Regions from separate parts of the Homo sapiens genome. Here region 2 is linked to region 1. Evidence: fine-mapped expression QTL. Tissue or cell type: skeletal muscle. Region 1 holds a variant in brackets; the other region holds the start of a gene. All regions are shown on one strand. Distances are from middle to middle. Region 1 has its middle 32 kb from the start of APOL5. Region 2 holds the start of APOL5 (apolipoprotein L5).

The links.
Region 2: APOL5 starts here. The variant in region 1 is fine-mapped to the expression of APOL5 in skeletal muscle (GTEx, PIP above 0.99).

What each region holds. Positions count from the first base shown.
Region 1 is chr22:35,681,591-35,689,931 of GRCh38, forward strand. No RefSeq gene overlaps it. Among named protein-coding and RNA genes, the nearest start is that of APOL5, 32 kb to the right of the region's middle. The variant A/C (reference allele first, on the strand shown) is at 4,333.
Region 2 is chr22:35,714,187-35,722,527 of GRCh38, forward strand. APOL5 (apolipoprotein L5) reads left to right here and starts at 3,686. Exons shown (of 5, transcript NM_030642.1): 1 at 3,686-3,740; 2 at 6,382-6,468. The coding sequence starts at 3,686.

The sequences.
Region 1 (8,341 bases):
TTGCTCCTTAGTTCAGCTAAATCCAGGTTTTTGTCTCACGACCAAGAAAAATTAGGCATGCAGACACATTGAAGGGTGAGGTGGGCAGAATTTACTCAGTGAAAGGAAAGCTCTCAGCAAAGAGAGGGGCTCTGCAAGCAGATTTCCATTTCACAAATTGAATACCGGAGCCACTAGACACAAGCTGAAGAGGTCAGGATCCTCCCCTGCATAAAGTGTGAATTTCTGGTAGCTCCACCCCATTCCCCCAGGGCATGTGGGCCTCCAGTCTGCTGTGGGTATGCCCAGGCAAGCTCCCTGTGCAAGTTCCCTTATCTGCATAAAGTGTCTGGTGATTACATCTGGTGATTTCATCTGGTGTAACCTGGGGTGGGTCGGAGTTTCTCCAGGGACCCTTTCCTATCTGCCTCAGCATTTGGCCATCTCCTGCCTCTATCACATTTACACTTGGGTTGCTTCCTCCTTTTAGCTATTGTAAATAGTGTTGCTATAAACACGGGTGTACTCTTACTGGTATATTTTAATGTACAAAATTTCTTAGTGAAGTCCAAGTTATAAATGTTTTCTTCTATCTATCAGTTCTTTTAATGTTGTGTAGAATATTTGCATATCCCTAGATCGTGAACATATCCTCCTCTGATTTTTTCTGTAAGTTTTATTGTTTTATTTTAAGCTTTAAATCTGTCATAATCAGCAATTGATTTTTATGTGTGATGTGAGGAGGGAATCAAGATTCACTTTCTTTGGCTGGGCACAGTGGCTCATGCCTGTAATCCCAACAGTTTGGGAGGCTGAGGTGGGTGGATAACATGAGGCCAGGAGTTCAAGACCAGCCTGGCCAACATGGTGAAATTCCATCTCTATTAAAAATACAAAAATTAGCCAGTCATGGTGGTGCGTGTCTGTAATCCGAGCTACTCAGGTGGCTGAGGCATGAGAATCACTTGAACCTGGGAGGTGGAGGTTACAGTGAGCCAATATTATGCCACTGCACTCCAGCCTGGGAGACAGAGTGAGAACTTATCTCAAAAAAAAATTTCACTTTTTTCCCATATGAATATCTAATTGATCATCACCATTTGTGGCAAAGACCTTCCTTCTCCTACTGCATTGCAGGGTGCCTTTGTTGTAAATGAGGTGGTGGTACAAACACAAGGTTAAACAAATAGACCAACAGAACTTATACAGTTTGTTTCTGGATTCTCTGTTTTGTTCCATTGGTCTATTTGTCTGGCCTTGTGCAATACCATACTCTTAATTACTGTGGATTTACAATGAATCTTTTAGATCTTGTGATGTAAATTTTCCAACTTGTTCTTTATCAAGATTGCTTTTGTTACTCTAGGTCGTTTTTATTTCCATATAAATTTTAGAATCAAATCAACTTGTCAATTTCAATAAAAATATCTGCTAGTGTTTTATTGAATCTATAGATCAATTTGAAAATAATTGAATTCTTGACAAAACTGAATTTTTCAATTCATAGTATCTCTCCAATTATTTAGGTCTTTCACTTATTTTAACAATGCTTTGTAGTTTCAGTGTCATGAAAATTATTTCCTGGATATATTCTTAGGTATTTGATGTGTTCTAATATCATAAATTATTTATTTCATTTTATTATTGTTTGTCTCTTAGTATGAAGAAATACAATGCATTTCTGTATACTGACCTTGTATCCAGGGAGCCCACTAAATTTATTATAATCTAATGGCTTATCCGTAGATTATTTTAGATTTTCTACATGTACAATTACAGTTGAGCCTTGAACAACATGGGTTTGAACTGTATGGGTCCCCTTATATGCAGATTGGAGAAGGGATGAGAGAGAGCGAGAGAGAGAGAAGGAATGAGAGAGAGAGAGAAGTGATGAGAGAGAGAAGGAGAGAAAGAATGAGAGAGAGAGACAGGATGAGAGAGAGAGAGAAGGACAGAAGGAATGAGAGAGACAGGAGAGAAGGAGTGAGAGAGAGAAGGAATGAGAGAAAGAGAAGGAGAGAAGGAATGGGAGAGAAGGAATGAGAGAAAGAGAAGGAATGAGAGAGAGAGAAGGAGAGAAGGAATGACAGAGAGAAAGAGAGAAGGAATGAGAGAGAGAAAGAGAGAAGGAATGAGAGAGAGAAGGACAGAAAGATTGAGGGAGAGAGAAGTAGAGAAGGAATGAGAGAGAGAATGACAGAAAGATTGAGGGAGAGAGAAGTAGATAAGGAATGAGAGTGAGAAGGAGAGAAGGAATGAGAGAAAGAGAATGAATGAGAGAGAGAAGGAGAGAAGAAATGAGAGAGAAGGAGAGAAGGAATGACAGAAAGAGAGAGAAGGAACGAGAAAGAGGAGAAAAGGAATGAGAGAGAGAAGGAATGAGAGACAGAGAGACGGAGAGAAGGAATGACAGAGAGAAAGAGAGAGAAAGAATGAGAGACAGGAGAGAAGGAATGACAGGGAGAGAGAAGGAGAGGAGGAGAGAAACTGACATGGACTCTGGTGGACATTTGTAAAACATCACAGCCACCCAGCACTTGATCGGTAAACTCACTTTCCCAGCCACCAAGAAGCTGGAATGAAGACATAGGTGATCTGCCCTGGGATGGAATTGGAAGCTGACTTGGAGCTGGATGCAGTAACTGATGTGTCCTGATCCCCTTTTGAAAAGAGTATTTTTGTGTGTATGTGGGCTAAAAGGGGTTTATAAATATTATTTTCTGTTACTTTGTTTTGTTTATTTAAGTGTGTGTGTGTGTGTGTGTGTGTGTGTGTGTACTTGCTGATGTTGGGTAGTCAAAGGCTTTGTAGACTTTGGTGATTCTTTTTGCCCAGTAAACACTTTTCCTCCATTTGGGGGCGCTCCCTGCTCTATAGCTCTTGGTGGGATGTGGCAATAGCCTCTGACTACAGAAATCAGATACTCATTCCCAGCCTCTCTTGATGCAGAGATGCAGCCAAACAGATGTACCCATATTAGACTTCAAATCATGAGCTCCCTCCAGAATCTATTCTGGGGATAATGGCAGCAGTTACATCCTGTTTCCAGAGCCAACAGCATAAGAGGCTGTAGTCGTGTATCCAGCATTGGTCACGTTGGTGACAATGGTGCTGAAGTCAGAGCTGTCTGTGCCTACCAGTGCTTCCCACTAAACCACTTTTCAGTGTGATTTTGGGTGCTGTTCCTGAGGGTGTTTCTTCTGGACACAGATTGTATATAGGCCATTTTTCCTTCTCTCCTAGAGAGCTTCTGAGATACCTAATATTTGGTAATACATTGCTTTTCTGATTAAGCTAGTTTGGGTTCACTTTGTTAGCAGCTAGGAATGCTGACTGGTTCAGGAATGAATTAGGTCATAAAATGAAAAGTCCAGCAATGTCCCTGCTTCAGGTAAGGTTGGTTCTAGGTGCTCAACTATATACTAGGACTTTTTTTTTTTTTTGAGACAGAGTCTCACTCTGTTGCCCAGGCTGGAGTGCAATGGTTCAGTCTCAGCTCATTGCAACCTCCACCTCCCAGGTTCAAGTGATTCCTGCCTCAGCCTCCCAAGTAGCTGGGATTACAGGCAAGTGCCACCACACCCCACTAATTTTGTACTTTTAGTAGAGATGGGGTTTCACTATATTGGCCAGACAGGCCTTGAACTCCTGACCTCAAGCGATCCGCCCCCACCTTGGCCTCCCAAAGTGCTAGGATCACAGTCATGAGCCACCGTGCCTGGCCTAGGACTCCTGTCTCTCTCAGGTCTGCTTTCCTCCACGTGGGTTTCTTTCCCAGGAATGACCTTTGTACAACATGGAAAAGATGACCATCAGAGATCTAGATTTGCCTTGTCCTTTAACTAGCAGCCCCAGAGGGAAGGGCGTCCATCTTTCCTACCTATTTCTCCCACAGAAGTCCTGGGAATGGCTCTGCCCAAAGCACCAGCATGGCAGAGGTTCTGCAGTTAGTGTCTGAGAGCCTTAGTGTTTCAGCAATTTTTTTCACAGCTTCCCTAGGTCACAGAAATACTGAACAGTTCAATTACCAAGTGGCTAGGTCCAAATGGTTTGTGAACCTCTGCAATCCACTCATGGGATAGGCCGGCTGAGTCAGGCACCCACCTCTGCAAAGGAGGTGCACCCACACTTCCAGGAAGAAAATTATGATGGGCAAAGTATAAAAGATATCCACCATTCCTCTGTCCTGATGGAACAGCCTTGGCAGGCCTGTGTCTGGTAGATATAAACAGAGTGTGCGCGTGTGATAGGTAGCATATGATCAGCAGAAGAGCTGGCCTGGGTCTGGGGCTCTGTGGAGCGCATCTGGTTTATTTATAGGTTGCTCGTAACCCAACCTGGATCCTATTAAGT[A/C]ACCTGTAAAAACAAGCCACACCACCGAACATGGAGGTCCAATGCCGATTCATGACCCTGAGAGCTCCATCCTGAGGGGGCGGGCCCGGAACGTGAGTACTGCATTTGGAATGAGGGATGCGGAACCGTGGGAAGGGACAAATCAGTTGCATTTATCTTTCCTTTTTTGCCCAAAAACCCAATAAACACACCTCTTCCTTGTTTAGTTCCTGTGCTCTGAGGGTGAATTGCAGCATGTCTAGAATGAAACTGAGCGGTTGTACTAAACTTGCTGCCTGGCACTGATGTTGCCCAAGGCAGGAAAGCCGGTGAATAGTGTCGCTTTGTAGGCAGGGGGGCAAGGAGGAGTTTGGCGTGGTTTGTACCAACTTGTCAGCATTGTTTATTGATAACAGTAAGACTGATTTTCTCCTGGTGAGACCCCCAGAGAGCTGTGCTGCAGAAGCTAGTTATGTAACAGGAATTTGTGTATGTGACCTGTGAAACATAAAAAACCCCAGCCGAGACTCTCTTTTGGGCCCCTTAGTTCTGTGGTGCTCTGTGCACCTGCCAAGGGTTCTGTATCTGAAAGAGGAAGTGCATTTTGCCATGACCATACAGTAGAGAGGACAATAGAAACCCAAACCGGCCCTGCCAGACCCCTTGCTGTGAGCTGGCCATAGCTGTGATGCACATCTTCTTCTTTTTTTTTTCTTTGGTCTCTGTTGCACAGTGGAGTCCAGTGGCATGATCATATCTCATTGACGCCTCCAACTCTTAGGTTTAAGCGTCCTCCCACCTCAGCCTCCTGGGTAGCTAGGACTACAGGGGTGTGCCACCACACCTAGTTTTTGTTTGTTTGTTTGTTTTGTTTTGTTTTGTTTTTCTTGAGACAGAGTCTTCCTCTGTCACCCAGGCTGGAGTGCAATGGCATGATCTCAGCTCACGGAAACCTCTGCCGCCTGGGTTCAAGCAATTCTCCTGCCTCAGCCTCCCAAGTAGCTGGGATTGCAGGTGTGCACCACCACACCCAGCTAATTTTTTGTATTCTTAGTAGAGATGGGGTTTCATCACGTATGCCAGGCTGGTCTCAAACTCCTGACCTCAGGTGATCCACCTGCCTCAGCCTCCTAAAGTGCTGGGATTACAGGCGTGAGCCACTGCACTCAGCCCAGGCCTAGTTAATTTTTAAATTTTTTGTAGCAATGGGAATCTCATTCTGTTGCTCAGGCTGGTCTCGAACTCCTGGTCTCAAGCAATCCTCCCACCTCAGCTCCCCAAAGTGCTGAGATTACAGGTATGCACCACCATGCCCTGCACACATCCTGACTTTAATGTTAGCTGTAGAGTGCTCCTTTCTCTTCAAGAATCTATAGATTTGTAAGCACTGTCATTTGGAGCCCTATAAATCATTAGCAATAAATCCTGTAACTGGCACTCTTAGTGCAGTCCCTAAGGTTAAAATGACTCGATTCTGTCTAATTGGGCTGAGAAGGACATAGATGTGTTAGTCTCTAGTTTCTCAAGCTAATCCACATGCCATTCTGCTGATAGAGGATTCGCATTCAAAATATCTATAGATATTGCCAGATTCTCATGTCTATCAGTAACGTGTGGACAGGCCTTTTGCACTACACTGTCATCAAAATTCGAGGTGCTCAATCATTTGCATTTTTGCCGTCTGAGAGGTGAAACATTTGATGTCATTGCCTGCACTTGTACTTGGCAAAATCAAGCATGCCAGGAAGGGAGTGTAGCTTGCCTATCTCCCTTGGTTTCCTGAGGAGGTTGCCAGAAGTGTAGTGCTCTCAGCAGCCCCTACGGAGTGAAGAATCCATTATTTCAGAGGAGATCAGAGCAAGCCAGAACTTGTGGTTTTACAATATTTTAGTTTGGGGTCAAGGGTTGATCGGCATTCAAGATTCATTCTTGGGCTGGGTGCAGTGGCTCACACCTGTAATCCCAGCACTTTGGGAGGCTGAGGGGGGTGGATCACTTGAGGTCAAGAGTTCAAGACCAGCCTGACCAACATGGTGAAACCCTATCTCTACCAAAAATATAAAAACATTAGCCGAGTGTGGTGGTGTGTGCCTGTAATCCCAAATACTTGGGAGGCTAAAGCAGGAGAATCACTTGAACCCGGGAGGCGGAGGTTGCAGTGAGCCAAGATCACGCCACTGCACTCCAACCTGAGTGACAGAGCGAGACTCCATCTCAAAAAAAAAAAAAAGATTCGTTCTTGTGACATATAAGGGAATGCTTCTATATCACAGGTACATCCCACCACATCCCACTACTTACTGCACCATCGCACCCACTTGAGGTTTCAGTGCAGCAAGCCTGACCATGCCCTACCACACCTCACACCTTTTCAGATCTGTGGTCCATTTTCTTTCTGTCTGCCTATACTTTTCTTGTTAATTTGTAGACACTCTTTACATATGATGCATATTAACCCACGGTCTGTCACATGTACTGCAAATATATTCTTCAGTCAGTCATTTGCCATTTTACTTTCCTTGTAGTTTTTTTTTTTTTCTATTCAGAGTTTTAAAATGTGACATAGACATTTTCCTTTAGGTACCTGGATTTCATGCCATGCTAAGAAAGGCCTTTATTCATCCAACATTATAAAAATGTCCTACATTTTCTTCTGGTATTTTATACTTTTATGTTTTATGTTATCAAATAAGAAAGGATGCTATTTGTTATATAGTATCATGTTATGTTTGTATAGCTATATGTTATTAATATAAGTGTTCCAGAAATTGTATGAAATTCCTAGAAATCTGATATATCCTGGTATAATGTTATCAGCTTTAATTCCAGTTATCTTAAAATGTCATATACCGCATGAATAACTAAATTTTCTTATGAAAATTCAGATGAACTCTCATGAGATCATTAACCATGGCCATTTTAATTTTTTTTTCATCCACCAAGCAGTTATCATTTACTCTGATGCTTTCCTGAAAGCACTTGCAAATCGCTATGACACAAAACTTCAAGAGATTCATAAAAAAAAGACTCAAGCACAGGTGTCTGATAACTTTTAAATCACACTGTTGAACCCATTAAACTGGGGTTGTTCTTAGCCTTACAGCCCTGTGAATGGGAGCTGGATGACTTCATAGAGACTTCAGAGAAATTGCTACAACAGTTTATACCTGGACAACCTTGGTGCCTGAGGCTGTGTTGGCCACACAGAAAGTTCACCAGAAACCTGATGATATCACCAGAGACATCCAAGCTGCAAGCCGGGAACACCCATCGGATTGAAACTGCCACACCAGAAGAAGAAAAAACAAATGCTATTTCTATATGAATACATCAGGAATAGATGCCCAAATCTGGGATCTTTAGAAATATAAAAGGCCAGGTCCAGGTGCTCCACCAGACGTGGGAAATACCGTCGACTGATCTAGTTAAATCAAGAGATTAAATCTCGGCTCTTGGGGACCCTAGTTTCAGGGTACTTTCCAAACTCTTGGCATTATCCTGTCATTAGTCCTACTGATAACATTTCCTATATGTTGCTTCTCTCAAGAGTCTTAAATGCTTGTGAGCAGCCACTGACTCATCACATGATCTCAGGAGGATGGAGGAACAAAAACTGCTTCAGTTGGAATTGTCAAAAAAAGAAAAAAGCCTACTGAAACTCTGCTTCACAGTCTTCAGACGGCCATGGAGACAAAGACATGTGGAAACCGAGTGTAGCGCTAAGCAGTGGGTCACACTCTGAGTCCGACTGAGAGAATGACCCAAATTGGGCAGTTGTTAAAAAGAAACAGGAAAATAGATGACCAGGTGTGGTGGCTCACACCCGTAATCCCAGCACTTTGGGAGGCCGAGGTAGGTGGATCACTTCGCCAACATGGTGAAACCCCCTCTCTACAAAAAGTACAAAAAAATTAGCCTTGTGTGGTGGTGTACGCCTGTAATCCCAGATACTCCGGAAGCTGAGGCATGAGAATCACTTGAACCCAAGAGGCAGAGGTTGCAGTGAGCTGAGATCGCGCCATTGCACTCC
Region 2 (8,341 bases), 33 kb after region 1:
CTGTAATCCCAGCTACTTGGAAGGCTAAGGCAGGAGAATCGCTTGAACCTGGGCGGCGGAGGTTGCAGTGAGCTGAGACCATGCCACTGCATTCCAGCCTGGATGACAGAGCAAGATTCTGTCTCAAAAAAATAAAAATAAATAAAAATCTGCGTTATCCCTCTGGGCCCTGCAACTCTTAATGGGTCCAGTTTTGTGGTCAGTCCAGGCACTGTTATCTGGTTGTGTGGTTGAGAATTCCAGAAGTGCCTAGATTTGTTTTTGGCCCAGCCATGCCTTCTCACTATGTGGCCCTCGAGGGAGATATTAGCATGAGGGACAATGGCAAACAGTAGTAGCAGAAAAGGACAATGCCTCGTTTTACCCTTCTGGCTTGGGGCTGACTCTCCAGAGCAGAGCTCTCTGGCAGAATGGACTGAACTACCTGGCTTAGGTCTACGTGAGCCTCTCCCTGCCTCTAAAACCAGACTCCAAGTTCAGGATCGCTGTGTCCTCCAGCAATGAATGCAGGGTGTCCGACTGAGAAGAGTTGAGAAAGCAAGATAAATGAACTGGGGCCAGTGGATCCCTTCTTCCGTGTTGAGAGAGGAGGCAGGAGAGAGGAGCAAGCTCCTTGCATCTGTGTGTGATCCCTGAGCACAGTGGCCACAGCCTCCACTGAAGGTGGCCTCCTGGGTGTCTTGTAATGGAAACCACTCAGAAGAGTCTAACGCCCTGTTTGGGAGACGTGAGTCAAAGCAGGGGGAGAAGGGTAGTTCTTTCTCGCTCTCAGTGTGATATTCTGAGCTTTCTCATGGAAGATGCATTTTTAAATTATCAGAAATTGATCGATTATGAAATATGATGATTCGTGAAACATCTGTGTACATAATCAAACACAAGATGATGTTGTTTGACCTCTCATCCTATGCATAAAGCACAAAAGTTGCATAGGAGATGAATTTAACTGGAAGGGAACTATGAGCCCATTTCATGGACAGACCCAGAACCTGTCCAGTGGTTCTCCCACTCCCGCTATATGATCATCCTCTGCCTTTGCTGGGTCTCAGCCCTGCTCACTCCCTTCTTGCCTCCTCCCCAAAATAAAGTCTAATAGAGTCATCTCCCAAGATCTATTCTAGCCCAGGACAGCAGGGAGAGCTGAGCAAGATTTTAAACATAAAAAACTTAGTGTCAGCTGGGCGTAGTGGCTCAGGACTTTAATCCCAGCACTTTGAGAGGCTGAGGTGGCCAGATGGATCACCTGAGGCCCAGGAGGTTGACAGCCTGGTCAACATGGTGAAACCCCGTCTCTACTAAGAATGCAAAAATTAGCTGGGCGTGGTGGTGCACACCTATAATCCCAGCTACTCGGGAGACTGAGGCAGGAGAATCGCTTGAACAAGGGAGGCAGAGGTTGCAAAGCCGAGATCGTGCCACTGCACTCCAGCCTGAGCCACAGAGCAAGACTGTGTATCAAAAATTAAATAAATATATACATACATACATAAAAAAACAAAACTTAGTGTCATGAATGATGAGGTCTTATTCTAAGTGTTGTTCTGTATCTGTCATTTACTGGGTATACACAGAGTAGGCAGGAAAGCGCAGATAACACACATCTCTGCCTTCAAGGTGAAGCTCCGGGCTGCCACAATAAACCACTCACTGCATCAGCTGAAACCTCTGCACTGTACCTATCTATGTAGAGCATAGGAAGAGAGCAAAGAAATAAAAAGCAGAATGCCTAAAATAATGGGACAAATCAAAGTTGAATAATTATAACAAAAAATAATTAATATGAATATGAATAACATTAAGAAAAGTATCAAATTGGGTCAAAATCAGATCTGAGTAATTTTCTACATCCAAGAGATAACCTGAAATAAATAGGACACAAAAGGCCAAAATAACAAGTTAGAAAAACTTACATAGAACCAACAAAAAAAGAAAACAATATTAACATTTAACAGTATTAATTTGTCAGATTTTGTCTTACCATGTACTTGGCAGCATTCCCTGCACCAAATGCATTACTGTACAAGTGGGAGATTTTATGATAAAATAATGAATAATAAATCTCATTACTAAAATCTTTTTATTCTATTGGCTTTTTGTTGTTGTTGAGACAGAGTCTCGCTCTGTCACCCAGGCTGAAGTGCAGTGGTGCAATCTCAGCTCACTGCAACCTCCGCCTCCCGGGTTCAAGAGATTCTCCTGCCTCAGCCTCCTGAGTAGCTGGGATTACAGGTGCCCACCACCACGCCTGGCTAATTTTTGTATTTTTAGTAGAGACTTGTTGGCCAGGCTGGTCTCGAACTCCTGATCTCAGGTGATCCACCTGCCTCAGCTTCCCAAAGTGCTGGGATTACAGGCGTGAGCCACCGTGCCTGGCTTCTATTGGCTTTTATTATAAAACTAACAAGTTACTTTGGTAACAAAGCTCAATAATATAGATGAGTGAAAAGTGCAAAAGTATTTTGTCACCCTAGCCCTAAATCTCCCTCCCTGAGCTAAGCCTGTTCACATTTGGTGTATCTCCTTCGAGAATATTCCCCTACTCCTACATCACATATATAGTACTTAAAAAAAATAAGAAAAGAATATAAAGAACATATTCTTCAACCTCTTTTCTTTTACTTAATATATCCTGGACCTCTTTCTAGGTCAGTTGTACATAGATTTGCCTCGTTCCTTTTCACATCCATAAACCTTTATTTTGTATTGCTCTATTTTCATGTAAACAGTCCCCGGCATGGATTTTTCAAATTGTTTCCATTTCTTTATACAACTTCAAATAACTGGATGAACATCCATACACGTTTGTCTGTTGTGTTGTGTTGTGCCGTTGTGTTGTGTCCGTGGTGGGTGTATTTCTAGAGGTGGGATGCTGAGTGTCAGGCACATGTACTTCTCATGTTAAGAGACATCCCAAGAAGGCCAGGTGCAGTGGCTCACACCTGTAATCCTAGCACTTTGGGAGGCCAAGGAGGGTGGATTGTTTGAGCTCAGGAGTTAGAGATTAGCCTGGGCAACATGGTGAATCTCCATCTCTACAAAAAAAAAAAAAATATATATATATATATATATTAGCTGGGTGTGGTGGTGCACACCTGTAGTCCCCGCCACTTGGGGGGCTAAGACAGGAGGATCACTTGAGCCCGGGAGGTTACTGCAGTGAGCCGAGATTGTGTCACTGCACTCCAGCCCAGGTGCCAAAATGAGACCATCTCCAAATGAAAGAAAAAAAAAAAAGAAAGATACCCTAAATCATCCTTCCAAAAGCCATAGCAGCTGAGCGCAGTGGCTCACGCCTGTAATCCCAGCATTTTGAGAGGCCAAGGCGGGCGGATCACCTGAGGTCAGGAGTTTGAGACCAGCCTGGCCATCATGGTGAAACCCTGTCTCTACTAAAAATACAAAAATTAGCCAGGCATGGTGGCAGGCACCTGTAATCCCAGCTACTCAGAAGGCTGAGGCAGAAGAGTCAGTTGAACCTGGGAAGTGGAGGTTGCAGTGACTGAGACTGCACCACTGCACTCCAGCCTGGGCAGCAGAGAGAAGCTCCATCGCAAAAAAAAAAAAAAAGAAAGAAAAGAAAAGAAAAAAAAATAGGTGAGGACTGGGAGAGACAGGTTTCAGGCATGGAGAAGGGAGTCATATTTATTAATCATATTATAAGCTTAAATTTTAAAAAATCTAAAGCATGCCATGTGGCAAACAAGGAAATTTGCAAGTTCCCGGTTCCAAGGTGTTACCTGGTAAGTTCTTTTAAGCTTTCAGAAAACAAGCAATTCTCACGTTGTACAAATTGTCCCAGAAATAGAAAAAATACGTTACACTATTTTTTATACCCACCATATGCTATTGCTGGGTGGAGATATAGCAGATCCTTGGTTTTAATGAGGGAGATATCATGAGACCCTCTCAATTGCTCAGGTTTGAAAATACTACATCAAATAACTTCCTTTGTAAAGTTTAACTAAAAATGTAAAGTTTAACTAAAAACATAAGCAGCTCTTTAAGCCCCTGCTTGAAGCAGTGTGGCAGCGGGGAAGGGGTCAATCACTGGTTCCATTTCTGGTTAAAGTAGAGGCAGCAGGCAGGACAAGGTGGCGACATTATCAAAGAACTCATCTGGATATCAAAACTGTTATGACCCCAAAGCACGGTTGGGCGCAGTGGCTCATGCCTGTAATCCCAACACTTTGGGAGGCCAACATGGGCAGATCACTTGAGGCCAGGAGTTCAAGACCAGCCTGGCCAACATGGTGAAACCCTGTCTCTATTAAAAATACAAAAAATTAGCCAGGCTGGTAGTGCACACCTGTAGTCCCGTTACTCGGGAGGGTGAGGCAGGAGAATTGCTTGAACTGGGAGATCGCGCCATTGCACTGCAGCCTGGACAACAGACAGAGACCCCGTCTCAAAAAAAAAAAAAAAAAAAAAAAAGACGCCAAAGTGCCATGATAAGGGAGTGTTTCTATAAACATGACAATACATCTTCTCTTAAGGAAATAGCATAGAGTCATCAAAAATAATAGTTATAACAACTGTATAGCAAGATGGAAAATACTTGTATAACATTACATTTTAAAAACAGGGCACGTGGCCAGGCACAGCGGCTCATGCCTGTAATCCCAGCACTTTGGGAGGCCAAGGCAGATGTATCACCTGAGGTTGGGAGTTTGAGACCAGCCTGGCCAACATGGTGAAACCCCCATCTCTACTACAAATAGAAAACTTATCCAGGCATGGTGGTGCGCACCTATAATTGCAACAACTCGGGAGGCTGAGACAGGAGAATCACTTGAACCCAGGAGGCGCAGGTTGCAGTGAGCCGAGATCGCACCACTGCATTCCAGCCTGGGTGACAGTGAGACCGTCTCAAAAATAATAATAATAATAAATAATAATAATAAATAAAAACAGGACACACCATTATAAGTATAAAAGCCATGCGAAAAATAATACGGATTTGAAAAATAACGGGAAGTAGAGAATGAAATCAATAGTTATGTTGCAGGAGAACTAGGGGTGATTTTTGTCAAATTATATTTTTTGTCAAATTTGACTATCTTTTTGTCAAATTATATTGAAAATACATTTAAAGTGATTTTTGAGCAACAAAAGAAGCTGCAATGTGAGAGAGAGTGTCTGAACAAGGTGGACTCTGCTGTGTTGCCTGCCTGGGTAAAACCAACCACCATCCCGCCCACGAGCCTTGTCATCAGGCAGGTGTCATTCAGCAGGGACTGGACTGTGCCTCTCTCAGGGCTATAGATGATAGGCACTGGACAGAATGAGCGTTCACTTGCTCCCAAGTTAAAAATGTTATCAATTAACATGGCCCCGATTGTCTTGGTGCCTATCATTGTGTTGTTGGATGATTCTCAGAAGACTTTTGTGACTTAACGAAATGGGAAAAGTTCCCTTATCCCCCTTGCACAGTATAAAACGGGGTGTGGCTCACTTCTTCGGTGCCCTGCGGCTCAAACCCCTAGGGGGAGCATGCGGACCGGCAGGTCTTGGGGAGCGTGGGCTCCGACCCCACAGCAGCCCCATCTAGGGTTGAGTGTTTGCAGCTCCCGAGCCCCAGTGAGCTTATCGGAAGGACAAAGCAGAGGGTCTAATTTCTGTACTCCAGGGTTCTAACCCTAGTATGCCAGAAAAATTGGATCACACGTGGGCTTGGAGAGTGAGTGCAAGGTTTTATCGAGTGTAGTTCTCAGCAGATGGATGGGGAGCCAGAAAGGGGATGGAGTGGGAAGGTGGTCTTCCCCTGGATTTGGGCCACTCAGCGGTTCTCCTCCAACTGCCTTTGGCTAAATTCCATGTCATTCAGCCGTGGATGACCTGTCAGCATCCGCCGGTGTATTCTTCTTCCTGTGTGTTCCTCTCGATGTCCAGCTACTTGTGTGTGTCTGCCTGTTAGGTGGGGATATGGCGGGCCAGAGTGGTCTTAGAAAATGCAGCATTTGGGAGCGAAAGCAGAAATGCTTGTCCTCACTTAGATCCATGGGCCCAGGCCCGAGGGTGGAACCCTCACCGGGGACCATGCCTTTATGTAAGCAGCACTTCCCTGCCTGCTCCCATATCATTAACGTATAACGTCAACATTTCAAAAGTGCTTTACCAATCTACTTTGCCACTAGAAGCCTAAGCGATTTCCAGTTTTATTGCATCCTAGTCAACCTTGGGCATTCCCATGGTTTGTTTGTTTAAAATCATTAGACAAAAATCATGTGACATTTCTGAGACATTAAGATTTTTGTTGTATTCTTTTTTTTTTCTAATTCTCCAATATTGTAATTAGACAGCCAACTTTCCCGGAGCACTGTTATGTCTTTTCGGGCTGAGATGACTCAAGAAGAAATGTCCCTGATCCTTGTCCATCTCCAGGCTTGGGAGAAGGTTGTAAAGAAATGTGGCTTCGAAAGGTAATCTACGGAGGTGAGGTCTGGGGGAAGTCCCCAGAACCTGAGTTCCGTGAGGGCAGAGAACAGGCTGTTATGCTTATGGCCACAATCCCAGCATCCAAAACAGTGTCTGTCACAGACCCAGCACTCAATGAGTATTTGGGTTTTGTTTTGTTTTGAGACAGAGTCTCTTCTCTGTTGCCCAGGTTGGAGTGCAGTGGCACGATCTCGGCTCACTGCAACCTCTGCCTCCCAGGTTCAAGTGATTCTCCTGCCTCAGCCTCACGAGTAGCTGGGATTACAGGCGCCCGCCACCACGCCCGGCTAATTTTTATATTTTTTGTAGAGATGGAGTTTCCCCATGTTGGCCAGGCTGGTCTTGAACTCCTGATCTCAAATGCTCCACCCGCCTCGGCCTCCCAATGTGCTGGGATTAGAGGTGTGAGCCACCGTGCCCAGCTGTCAATAAGTATTTGAATGAAGGAATAAAATCTGATTGTTAATATCCAGATCTGTAGCCACCTTCATAGGATGAAACATACAAATGGGTTCCAACCAAGTTGGCTGAAGTGTTGCTCATGTTGTCTCATGTGCAATTGGAGATATGCAAAAAAGATAAAATGTACACATCCGCATAAAAAATATCTTAGTAAAAAAAATGTAAAACCTTTGGTAAGGGCAGGCACGGTGGCTCACGCTTGAAATCCTAGCACTTTGGGAGGCCAAGGTGGGCGGATCGCTTGAGGTCAGGAGTTCAAGGACAGATTGGCCAACATGGTGAAACGTCATTTCCACTAAAAATACAGAAATTAGCTAGGTGTGGTGGAGCATGCCTGTAATCCCAGCTACATGGGAGGCTGAGGCAGGAGAATTGCTTGAACCCGGGAGGCGGAGGTTGCAGTGAGCCAAGATTGCACCACTACTGCACTCTAGCCTGGGCGACAGAGCAGGGCTTCATTTAAAAAAAAAAAATCCTTTGGTAATGGTAAGTACATTGGTATACTGATAGATGCCCAGACACATGGCTTAGAGGGCAATGGAATCCTAGAAGCAGAATTTGCTGGTTTTCTCCCAATCCAGGAATATTCCTTCCTGGGTCTGCCTTCACCCTTTCCCAACCCATGATAATGTCTGAGTCTTGCCTTGAGATCCAAGCTCCTGGGACTTCCCTTTCCGTTGCCTTGGCCTGGGCATTCAGACTCTCCCACAGAGCTCAGCTGCAGCAATAGACTCACAACAAACTCTGCTGCCTAACAGAGGTTGCACTTAACTCTTGCCAAAGTGTCCATAAGGTTCTCTAAAGTGGGTTGCAATGCTCCCGCAATTTATAGCAACCAAATGCCTAAAGATAAAATCTTCATGCGTCATGCAAATGGGTTGCCTGCGCTTTCAGACACAGGTACAGTTATTGACTTCTCTGTGTCCTTGGCCCAGCCTCCCTCTACTGTTCTCTCTCCCACCTCCACTGTCAAGATTTCCCCCCAGTGCTCCCGTTAAGTCTGAGAAAGCTCCCCAAAAAAGGCATTGACTTTTCAGGCACAGGCACAGCCATTTTTCTTATCCGTGTCCTTGACTTTGGCTACTGGCCAATGCATGCTGCATGGACTGGAGTTAACAGGGGCCCTTCCTATGTGCTTGTACAATGTTAACCTCTCCTCCTTTGGTAAAGGGAAAGGGATGATTTTTCCTATCTTGGGGAAAATCAGCCAGTGGTTGAGGCAGACTAGAGGCTTCAGGAAATGGAGTCTCCCTCTGTCGCCCAGGCTGGAGTGCAGTGGCGCGATCTCGGCTCACTGCAACCTCTGCCTCCCAGGTTCACGTGATTCTCCTGCCTCAGCCTTCCGAGTAGCTGGGACTACAGGTGCCCGCCACCACACCTGGATAATTTTTGTATTTTTAGTAGACAGGGTTTCACCACGTTGGCCAGGCTGGTCTCGAACTCC